2 linked regions of the Homo sapiens genome follow. The protein of the gene in region 2 interacts with the protein of the main gene of each other region in a pairwise test. Each region holds a gene or a part of one and is shown on either strand. Other genes may lie near its edges.

Evidence for each region. The genes of interacting proteins can lie anywhere in the genome.
Region 1: the proteins of RSKR (region 2) and TRAPPC12 interact in binary tests that used the Homo sapiens proteins (3 or more experiments, as listed by UniProt).

What each region holds. Positions count from the first base shown.
Region 1 is NC_000002.12:3,382,685-3,389,720, reverse strand, and holds part of TRAPPC12 (trafficking protein particle complex subunit 12), read right to left. Parts: intron 2,102-7,036; 5' UTR 2,098-2,101; coding exon 1,051-2,097; intron 36-1,050; exon of another isoform or gene 1-35. UniProt on the Homo sapiens protein: Component of the TRAPP complex, which is involved in endoplasmic reticulum to Golgi apparatus trafficking at a very early stage.
Region 2 is NC_000017.11:28,607,455-28,611,213, forward strand, and holds the end of RSKR (ribosomal protein S6 kinase-related protein), read right to left. Parts: coding exon 3,689-3,759; intron 3,246-3,688; coding exon 3,024-3,245; 3' UTR 509-3,023; downstream 1-508.

The DNA of each region.
Region 1 (7,036 bases), on a different chromosome or scaffold from region 2:
GCGGAGTGCAGGTACCAAGACAGCAATAACACTGTAACCCTCCATCCCCCACCCCCTTCGGCTGCCCCACTCAACGGGAAGCAGTGGTCTGTTAATGCGCCCGTTTAGAGCCGTTAAGATGCCCGTTAGTCCGGCAGCAGATGCGGGTCGAAAAGAGCTGTGTGCACGCTGTAACATCCCCTCTCGGGCTTCGGGGTCGCGGTTGTTGCTCTTCGGGCGCCACGGTGTTCCCCTCGCCTGGACGCAGGAGTCCACTGTGGGAGTCACTTGCCACACGCCTGGTCCAGCTACAAGCCCCGTGTGAAGCCTGCTCCTATGCTGGCGGTTGGAGCAGCCCCCGGACCCCTACACTCAGTTGCTCGCACAACCCACCTGCTGGGGGCTGAGAGCACAGTCACCGAGGCCACGGGATATGCCAAAGCGCAAGCCAGGTGCGGCCCGGCAGGCCTAGTGGGCGAACCTGGGCCGAGAGAGGCCTGGGCAGGGGCATCGCCGACCACGGAGGTCTCCAGCTGGCAAAGCGGCACCGAAAAAAACCCTGCATCAATTGTCTTTCATTAGTAGTGAGATCGAACATTTGTATGTTACCATTTAGCTTAACATTTATATATTTCTGTGATTTGTTACTTTTTGGGTCACGCGTATTTTTCTTATTCAACCTATAAAAATTCTACATCGGGCACATTATATGTTACAGGAATATATTTTTCCATATTTTAAAGAAAGAAATGGATTTATTATTAACTGGAGTTCAAATGTCAAATGGATTACAGGACATGGAGAACTGACTGAGAGAATTACGGTAGAACTGTCTGCCTTGGTGGTATTTATTTCTACCTCTCTGAGTAGCAGTCCATTAAATATGTTCTGTTGGGGAAACCAACAGATCCCTAATTACCCAGGGACAGAGGAACACAGGCGCTCACAATGGGATGTTAGGAATTACTGAAAACAAGGCCTTCTCCTTCTCCATCCCTAAAGGGGCACTGTGCGTATCTCACAGACGCAGAGAGGAGGCACGGGCTGCGGAGGTGGGAGACCCGGGCTCACCTGGATGTTGTCGAACCTGAGGCCCGGCATGGTGAGGTTCTCCTTGTCCACGAACACGGCGCCGCGCTGCTGGGTGGCCACGGCCCGCAGGACTCCACGCGTAGCCTCGCCGGGAAGCCAGGCGTCGTTCCTCCGGTCCATCTCGCTCATGCTCAGGGCGGTGGCAAAGGGGTCGTCACTCCCTGCAAACACTGCCTGGATGTGCGCGAAAGGCTCTGGCGACGCCGGGGGCGCAGCTGCCTGGGGCCCTCGCATGGCCACGGGTTCGGGGCGCCCCTCGGTCCCGGGCACAGCGAGGGGAGGCGGGCTGGCGGGGGCCGGGGAGCCCGCGCCGGGATTGCTGACGGAAATGAAGGCGGAGGTAGTAAAGGAGTCGAAGAAGTCCGAGGCCAAGGAGTGGCTGGCGGCCGTGTCTCCGAAGAACGTGCTGAGGCTGGGGCTGGGCTGCACGACCTGGGGCGGTGTCCTGGCCGAGGCCTCGCTGGCGCCACCGAAGCTGGGCGACTTCACCATCTGCGGCTCGAAGCCGTCCCCGGAGGCTGGGGGCGCGCGCTGGCTGAAGATGGTGCACACCGGGACCGGCTCCGCAACGGGAGGCTCCTGCTCCGGGCGCGCGGCTTCGCTGCCTGGGACCTCGCGGGCCGCGTCCTGCCTCGGGGCCCCTCCGCTACTGGGTGCCGCGTCCTCGGGGGCACAGTCGCCGTCGGCCTCGCCGCTGGGACTCGGGGTGCCCGCGGGCTCCGGGCCTGGGTCGCCTTCCCCTCCGGGCTCAGCTTCGTCCCGCACTCGGCCCAGGTCGCCCGCGTCGCCCTCGCTGTTGGGGGAGTCAGAGATGAGGACGCTCTCCATCATGTGTTCGTTCAGCTTGTCCGCGAGAGGACTCGAGCCTTCCGATGCGGTCTCGTTCTCTTCGGATCCAAACTCATCTCCGCCAAGATCGATGGTTTCCTCCTGGAAGAGCAACCCCTGCTCCTCCGGAGGCGCGAGCTGAGGGGGGTGCGGGGCCTCCGGGGCCGGGGTCTCCTCGCCGCCGCCAGCGTCCTCCATGACCCTGAAAGCAAAGACAGAGAGAAGGCCCCTGAGCGTGATCTTCATTCACCTCAACCGAAAAATGAGTATTGCTTATAGATTCAAATGACGCAGACTTCCATTTCTCCAGCTTCTTATCCATGTGCTTTTGATTATGGTAAAATACACATAAAATTGACCACCTTAAGTTCAGTAGTGTTAAGTACATCTACATTTCTGTGCAACCAATCTCCAGAACACTTTTTATCTTGCAAAACTAAAATTCCATCCCCATTAAACATTCCCCCGTATACCCATCTCCCCCGCCTAGAGCATCCACCATTCTACTATAAAATAAGTGGAATCACCCGATAACTGTCTTCCTGTGACTGGCTGATTTTACTCAGTATAAAGTCCTCAAGGGCTATTTATGCTACAGCTTGGTCAGAGTTTCCTTCCTTTTTATGGATGAAAAATATTCCATGGTATGCATACACTACATTTTGTTTATCCAGCTATCTGTTGTTGAACACGTGGGTTGCTCCCATCTTTTAGCTATTGTGGATGCTGCTGCAATGAACGTGGCTGTACAAACAGCTCTTTGAGACCCTGCTTTCAATCATTTTGGGTAAATACCTAGAAGGAACTGCTGGATTATATGGTAATTCTATTTTTAATTTTTTTGAGGCACCAAAAAACTGTTTTTCATAGTGGCTGAACCGTTTGTCATTCCCACCAACAGTGCACAAGCCTTGGAATTCACATCCTTGCCAACACTTGTTATTTTGTTTTTATTTCATAGTAGCCATTCCAGTAGGTGTGAGGTTCCAGCCATATAAACACTACTTCATTCTGAGAGTCAGCTAAGTCCCTCCTCTTCCATGAAGCCCTCCCAAGACTCTTCAATTTGTAATAGTCTCTTGACTTCCCCATGCCGTCCGCCCCTACCCCCGCCCCACGCCCCAGCTCATATTATCTGCCTGACTCTGGAAATCTGATACAGTGCGAATGACATGAAAAATTTAAACAGTAAGAAAACAGCACACTCACTAAGCACTGATGGCTGAAGCTGACAACACAACTAGCTAACATTTATCCGCACATACTATGCCCCTGGCTATATATACATATGCCTGTGTGATTCTCAGAACACCCCTCGAGACAGCTGCTATCACTGTCTTCGTTTCGCAGATGAGGACACTGAGGCCTTGGGAGGCTATGTAAGCCGAAATCACACCGCTAGTGAGTGGGGAAACCAGGACCAGCCAAAGAATGAGACAAAGAGCTCAAACTGTAAAAAAGTATTTGTTCTTTTTCTTGAAAAACTTTTACTTTATGTAGTTTTACTCTCATAGTGAACAAATTCAAGTTAAGGAAATCTAAGAGACTATGATAAAAGATAAGGGATTTTTTTCAGAATAAAACAACACGTACCTTTTTTACTTAAAAAATGACACTTAGCTGATCTCTAGATAAGACTACCCTTTTCTCACTGTCAACACTTCCATCATAGTATTCCCAATGAGTCAGCCTTCCCAAAACATTATTTTAAAGTACATAATCCAAGTTATACATTTTGAAGAAGTTTCCGGTTCAGCCTGGTCAGCTACTAATTCCCTTATACATTCATCCAATAATTGTTAAGTATAAATGAATAAAAAATCCAATGAAAAGGAGTAAAACGTTTTTTTTCCTGCCATGTTTCACCGGGAGCCCGAAGAACAAATTGCCCTAGAACCCCAAAGGGGGAGCCCCCTGTGCATGGTAAGGCTGCTCCTTCGGGTCCTTCCTGTGCAGGGATAGAGGCCGGGCACAAGGAGCAAACAGGCAGCATGAGGCAGTGCCCCCTCTGAAGTCTCCCAGCAGGACTTGAAGGCACTAGCGTGGTCTGCGTATTTTATTTTAGAAATAAGAATTGATTTCGATATAAGCTAATGATGAGAGAAAGGGATCTTCCCTCCGTCTCATCTACCCTCAGCCCTAACAAAATTCTAGGTTCTAAAGCTAATTCTGATTCAATCTCACAGATTTTAAAAGTTTTATTGCCTTTGTGAAGAAACTTTTTAAAGAAACAATTCTTACTATTGTGAAGATGAAGCTGCTTTAAACCTGTAAGATTTAGGGAAATCTGTTTATCAGAGATATAATAACAAAAAACATCGCCTAGAAAAACCACCAAAATAATAAAAATTAAGGTAAAATGCTTCTAAATTATAAAGCTTAAAAACTTTATAAATTGTAAATTAAGGAGAACTGATAAAATGGGAATGTCCAAAATTTTCATTAATACCTGCAAACCACTTTTGAGAAGAGAAGAAAATAAAAAAATAAATTTTATTCTTAAGTAAATACCAAAGTAATAAAAAGCCCTAATAATTTAGGGCAAGGATGATCACTTTTGCTTTCACACAAATAAAATCTAGATGCAGGAAAATGCTTGTAAGTAAGGATCTGAGGGTTTCTTCTCTAGAAAATCAAGAGGAATGCTCAAATAAAAATGATATAAAACGTGATTTAGATGATGCTTTTATGAATGGGAAGACATACATATATTATAAAGCTACATCTATATAAATTATATACATAAGATTTTGTGAGAATGGACATATAATTTGTAGCAAAATAGCTTCTTCACTTCAAGGGTTTCCTTACTCTAATCTTATTCCAATGTAAGGTTCAAATGCAAAGCAGACACTAGTAATAACCATGTATATATGACGAGATAGTTCTATAACCATAAAAAAAGTATAACCAGTAGTTAAGTCTTCCTACAAAGAAAATATAGGGTCCAGAGGGTTTACCAGTGAATTCTACCAAAGATTCCGTACAGATAATTCCTACAGTACAAAAATTCTTGCAGAGAAGAAAAAAGACACATGACCCAATTCACTTTATAAGGCTAATATAACCTTGAGACCAAAATTTGACAAGGCCATACTAAAAGGGAAGCTATCATCTCACTCATGAACACACATGCAAAAATCTTGAAATATTAGCTAACTGAATCAGCAATGTATTTATTTTCTACCAAACTCAGGTAATCCCAGAAATGTACTGTTGGTTTAATGCGATAGATTAAATAAAAGTACATGACTATCTCAATAGATGCACAAGAAAGTATCTAATAAAATTCAGCATCTGCTCAAGATAAAACCTGTCAGCAAACTAGCAACAGAAAGTAACTTCCTTAATGCAATCAAAGGTATCTACCAAAAACCTAAAGGAAACCTCAAATTAACAGTGAAACGTTTAAAGCATTCTCTTTAAAAGTAGAAAAAAGATAAAGATGTCCTCTTCAACATTTTTATGCTGCCTAATACTGGAGTCCTCGGGCAGGATTAAGGCAAGAAAAATAACTAAAAGCTACAATAAAAACTGAAAAGAAAAAAATACAAACCTTCATTCTTCGTGTATGATTATTTATGTAGAATACATCAAAAATCTATGGTATAAAGACTGAAATATTGGGCCAGGCACGGTGGTTCAGGCCTGTAATCCTAGCAATTTGGGAGGCCGAGGAGGGTGGATCACCTGAGGTCAGAAGTTCAAGACCAGCCTGGTCAACATGGTGAAACACTGTCTCTACTAAATATACAAAAATTAGCCAGGTGTGGTGGAGGGCGCCTGTAATCCCAGCTACTTGGGATACTGAGGCAGGAAAATCACTTGAACCCAGGAGGCGGAGGTTGCAGTGAGCCGAGATCGCACCACTGTGCTCCAGCCTGGGCAACAGCAGCGAAACTTCATCTCAAAAAAAAAAAAAAAAAAAAAAAAAAAAAAAAAAAAAAAAACAAGACTGAACTATCACAAGGGAATATGTAGCACACATCAAAGGAAGAGACGATTTTCCTTGAGTGATGTGTAGACAAATCATGCAGCTGGGAAAAAATAAACTTGGAATCTTGTCTCACCACAGACACAGTATCAATCTCAGGGACGTTAAAAACTTAACTGTGAAGGCCGGGTGCGGTGGCTCACGCCTGTAATCCCAGCACTTTCGGAGGCCGGGGCGGGCGTATCACGAGGTCAGGAGTTCAAGATGAGCCTGGCCGACATGGTAAAACCCCGTCTCTACTAAAAATACAAAAATTAGCCAGGTGTGGTGGCGGGCACCTGTAATCCCAGCTACTCTGCTACTCGGGAGGCTGAGGCAGGAGAATCGCTTGAACCCAGGAGGCAGAGGTTGTAGTGAGCCAAGATTGAGGCACGACATTCCAGCCTGGGTGACAGAGAAAGACTCCGTCTCGGGCGGGGCGGGGGTGGGGGATCAAAAATTAACTGTGAAAGGCAAAACTTCAAAACTTTCAGAAGAAAATATAAGAGAATATATTTTCAGAGTAGGCAAAGCCTCTTAAACTAGGCATAATCAGTACAAACCATAAAGGGAAAATGGATACATCTGCTATATTAAAATGGAAAGTTCTATCATTAAAAACCTAAAAAAAGTGAAACAAACAAATGTAACTGAGAAAGGATTAACACGAAGAATACATAAAGAATCCCTACAAATTAATAAAAGCACACTAAATGATCCATTAGAAAAATAAGCAACAGAGCTGAAAGAGGTATACCTTTGAACATCCATGTTGAGAAACCACTTGGTATTATCTAGTAAAGTTTAAAAAGCACATTATCTTATCACTTTGATAACTATACATCTTGATTTTTCCCAGAACAATTCAATTTTTCACCCATGGTTTAAGTTATTTCTATTATTTTATTAGTATTATTATTTTATGAGACATAGTCTGGCTCTGTCACCCTGGCGGGAGTGCAATGGGACGATGATGGCTTACTGCAGCCTCGATCTTCTGGGCTCAAGCCCATCCTCCTGCCTCAGCCTCTGGAGTAGCTGGGACTACAGGTGTGCACCACCACACTCAGCTATTTTTGTATTTTTTGTAGAGATGGGGACTCAATATGTTGGCCAGGCTGGTCTCAAACTTCTGAGCTCAAGTGATCCTCCTGCCTTGGCCTC
Region 2 (3,759 bases):
AGATGAGAGCCTGGGCGTGGTGGCTCACGCCTGTAATCTCAGCACTTTGGGAGGCCAAGGCGGGTGGATCATCTGAGGTCAGGAGTTCCACACCAGCCTGGCCAACATGGCGAAACCCCGTCTCTACTCAAAATACAAAAATTAGCCGGGCGTGGTAGCATGCACCTGTAATCCCAGCTACCCACGAGGCTGAGGCAGGAGAATTGCTAGAACCTGGGAGGCAGAGGCTACAGTGAGCCGAGATTGCGCCACTGCACTCCAACCTGGGCAACAGAGCAAGACTCCATCCCCACCAAAAAAAAAAAAAAAAAAAAGACGATGAGATAGTTATTGGTGGATCCAGGCATCAGATCTCCTAAATTCCAAACAAATGCTCTTAACTACTATTTTGGAAACCATTAATTCCTATTTTTAGTATTCAGAGTTTTTATCCAGTGTGCAGTTCTGGTCATCACAATTTTTAAAAAGTAATAAAAGTGTCTAAAGAGAAACAAATGAGATAAAAGGATAAAGGATACATTGCCTTATTTATTTATATCCCAACCTTATTACAAAAAGGCTTACAAGATGCAGATATTATAGTAATATAAAACGATTAAAACTTAGAAAAATGAGAATAAGGAAAATAAAAGTAGAAAAGGAAGACAGAACCAAGAACATGACTAGCATACAAAATACATAAACACTTGCTGAAGGTAGACCACAAATTGGGCTCTAAATGGTCTAGTATCAGTACAAACAGAAAAATACAATCAGCTGAATATTTAGTGTCCTTAAGGTAAAAACCAAACAGCAATTCAGGAAAAGCATAACTGGGTCCAGAGAAAATTTCTCCCACGCATTCTTAAATAGAATATTATGAACTGTTACGATAAACACCCTTTACAGTATCCACAGCAATTAAATTTATTTTTTTCCTGAGACAAGATCTCACTCTGTTGCTCAGGCTGGATGCAGTGGCACGATCTTCACTCATTGCAACCTCCATCTCCTGGGTTCAAGCAATTCTTCCCCCTCAGCCTCCTGAGTAGCTGGGACTACAGTGTGTGCCCTCATGACCAGCTAATTTTTGTATTTTTTGGGGAGAAACGGGGTTTCACCATGTTGGCCAGGCTGGTCTCGAACTCCTGACCTCTGGTGATCCGCCCACCTCAGCCTCCCAAAGTGCTGGGATTACAAGTGTGAGCCACCACACCTGGCGAGCAATTAAATTTCATAGAGATTTTCATATGGATTACCAAAGTCCAATCCAGAAAAAGCAATTCTGCAGAGGCCAATAAAATGCCAGCTATGCATGGGGAAATCTGGCTCAATCTAGAGACAAAATTAATAAATAGAACTAAAGAGTACTCTCCAGACTGTCTTTTGTCTAGAGAGATTAGATGTAACTAAATAATATGGTCTAGATTAAAACTTACTTTCCCTTCAAGTCTCAGGACAAAAATGAAAATTGTGAGAAATTAGTTTAAGAAAAATGAAAAGAAGTCATAAAGGCCAAAACTGTATACAAATTTAAGGTCCAGATGATTTTCCTTACTAAAGGAAAAGGTTATTGAGATATGTCTCTAACCTTAAATCTTTTTTTTTTTTTTTTTTTTTTTTTTTTGAGACAGAGTCTACCTCTGTCACCCAGGAGTTCAATGGCACAATCTTGGCTCACTGCAACCTTGGCCTCCAGGGTTCAAGCAGTTCTCCTGCTTCAGCCTTCTGAGTAGCTGGGACTACAGGTGTGCAACACCACACCCAGCTAATTTTTGTATTTTTTTAGTAGACACAAGGTTTCACCATGTTGGCCACGCTGGTCTCGAACTCTTGACCTCAACTGATCTGCCCACCTTGGCCTCCCAAATAACCTTAAATCTTAAGGTTGATGCATGCCTCTTAATCTCTTGGTTTGCCCATCAGAAACTGAATCATGGGCTCACTAGGAGAAATTGTCAGTTTAAAAATCCTATGCTTTTCAAAGAGGTTTTATTTTGGATAACTGTTGCAATTATAGACCTAGAGAAGACATTTAACCCACCCATGTTTCAGTTTCTATTTTCTTCCTCACTAGATTATTTTATTCACTTTTCAATTTTTAAAAATTAGATTTATTGCAGACTGGCCTCAAGCTCCCAGACTATATTTTTTAGCTGCATTATTTAGGGGTTGAAATGCCAGCTTTTGAGACTTTTGAAAAATTCACAGGCTGGGTGTGGAGGCTCATGCCTGTGAAGGTTGCAGTGAGCTGAGATCGTGCCACTGCACTCCAACCTGGGTGACGAGAGTGAGACCCTATCTCAAAAAAAAAAAAAAAAAAAAAAAAAAAGGGTCTGGTGCAGTGGCTCACACCTACCTGTAATTCCAGCACTTTGGGAGGCCAAGGCAGGCCGATCACTTGAGGTCAGGAGTTTGAGATCAGCCTGGCCAACATGGTGAACCCTGTCTCTACTAAAAAATACAAAAATTAGCTGGGCATAATGGTGTGCATTTGTAATCCCAGCTACTCGGGAGGCTGAGGCATGAAAATCACTTCAACCCAGGAGACGGAGGTTGCAGTGAGCTGAGAACGCACCACTGCACTCCAGCCTGGGCAACAGAGTGAGACTCTGTCTCAAAAAAAAAAAAAAAATTCATATTGCTTCTGACAAGCCTATTAAACACATCAATAGCACCCTGGGAGCCCATGAAGTATTATTATTGCTCAAGAAAGGAAACATGGCAGAGAAACAAGCAGAAGCAGCTCTGGCTGACAGCCTGAGGGTAAAGAGCACTGGAGAAGTAAAGAAAAGGAAAAGGTCACCACCCTGATCTGACATGTTGAATTGAGAGGTAGGTTGTATGATAGGGAAGGAATAGGGCCAGCTGTGGCTGCCAGTAGCAGAATGTCCAGGTTGGAACTCTGGTCTAAAGCCTAGGAGAGCAGAACGGTAAGAGGCTACAAAATAAAAACAAACTGGATTATCAAGGTGGTCATACTGAGTAGGCAGGGATGGAGATCTTCAGGCTCCCAGCCGGGCCCCAATTTACAGTAGAGAGGCTCAAGCAGGGATAGGGTAGAGCAAGAAGGACTCCAGATCACAGTCAAAGTCGTCAAAGGGCATGGTCTCCGCTGAACTGGGCTGGGTAGCTTGTGTCTCCGTGACAAAGTTCACTGGCTGCTTCTGTAGGAGCTCTGGGTCGAAGGCCACACCCCGAAAGAAAGGGTGGACCTGGAAGTGATGCAGATAACGTAGACGATGGAGGGGGTTCTGGCATAAGAGCTGAAGGAAAATAGAGCATGAAGGATGAGTGACTAGGACAGGACAGGCCTGAACAGAAAGGATGGAAAAGAAGAAAGAAGTTCATGGAGCTGTGGAGGGTAGGAATAAGAACCCTGAAGAGTAGATGATTTGTAAAAGAGGGAGAAATAGAGGCTAATTTGGGGCAAAGGTGGGAATAAGGAGCTGTGCTTGTGAGTTTTCAGATGAGTGTACAGTGTTCCACTCTCTCAGAAGGGACCTCTCTGTTCTAGATGGGGAGGAGATTTGGGGGACCAGGAACTTAGGAATGTGACTCAGTACAGCTTAGATGGCAAGTAGTTAGGTAGTTAAGTTGGAGCCCCCTCAAAAAAACTGATGAGAGGAATGGGGAAAAATCACTTTAATGAAGGCAGGAGAGCATTAATGGTTTCGTAGCCAAGAAGGAAAGCAGTGCTCATCCTTACCTCATGGAGCAGGAGTGAGAGGCCCTGGTTAAGAGAAGCTGGGATCTCAGAGTCACTGTGGGTCACACTTG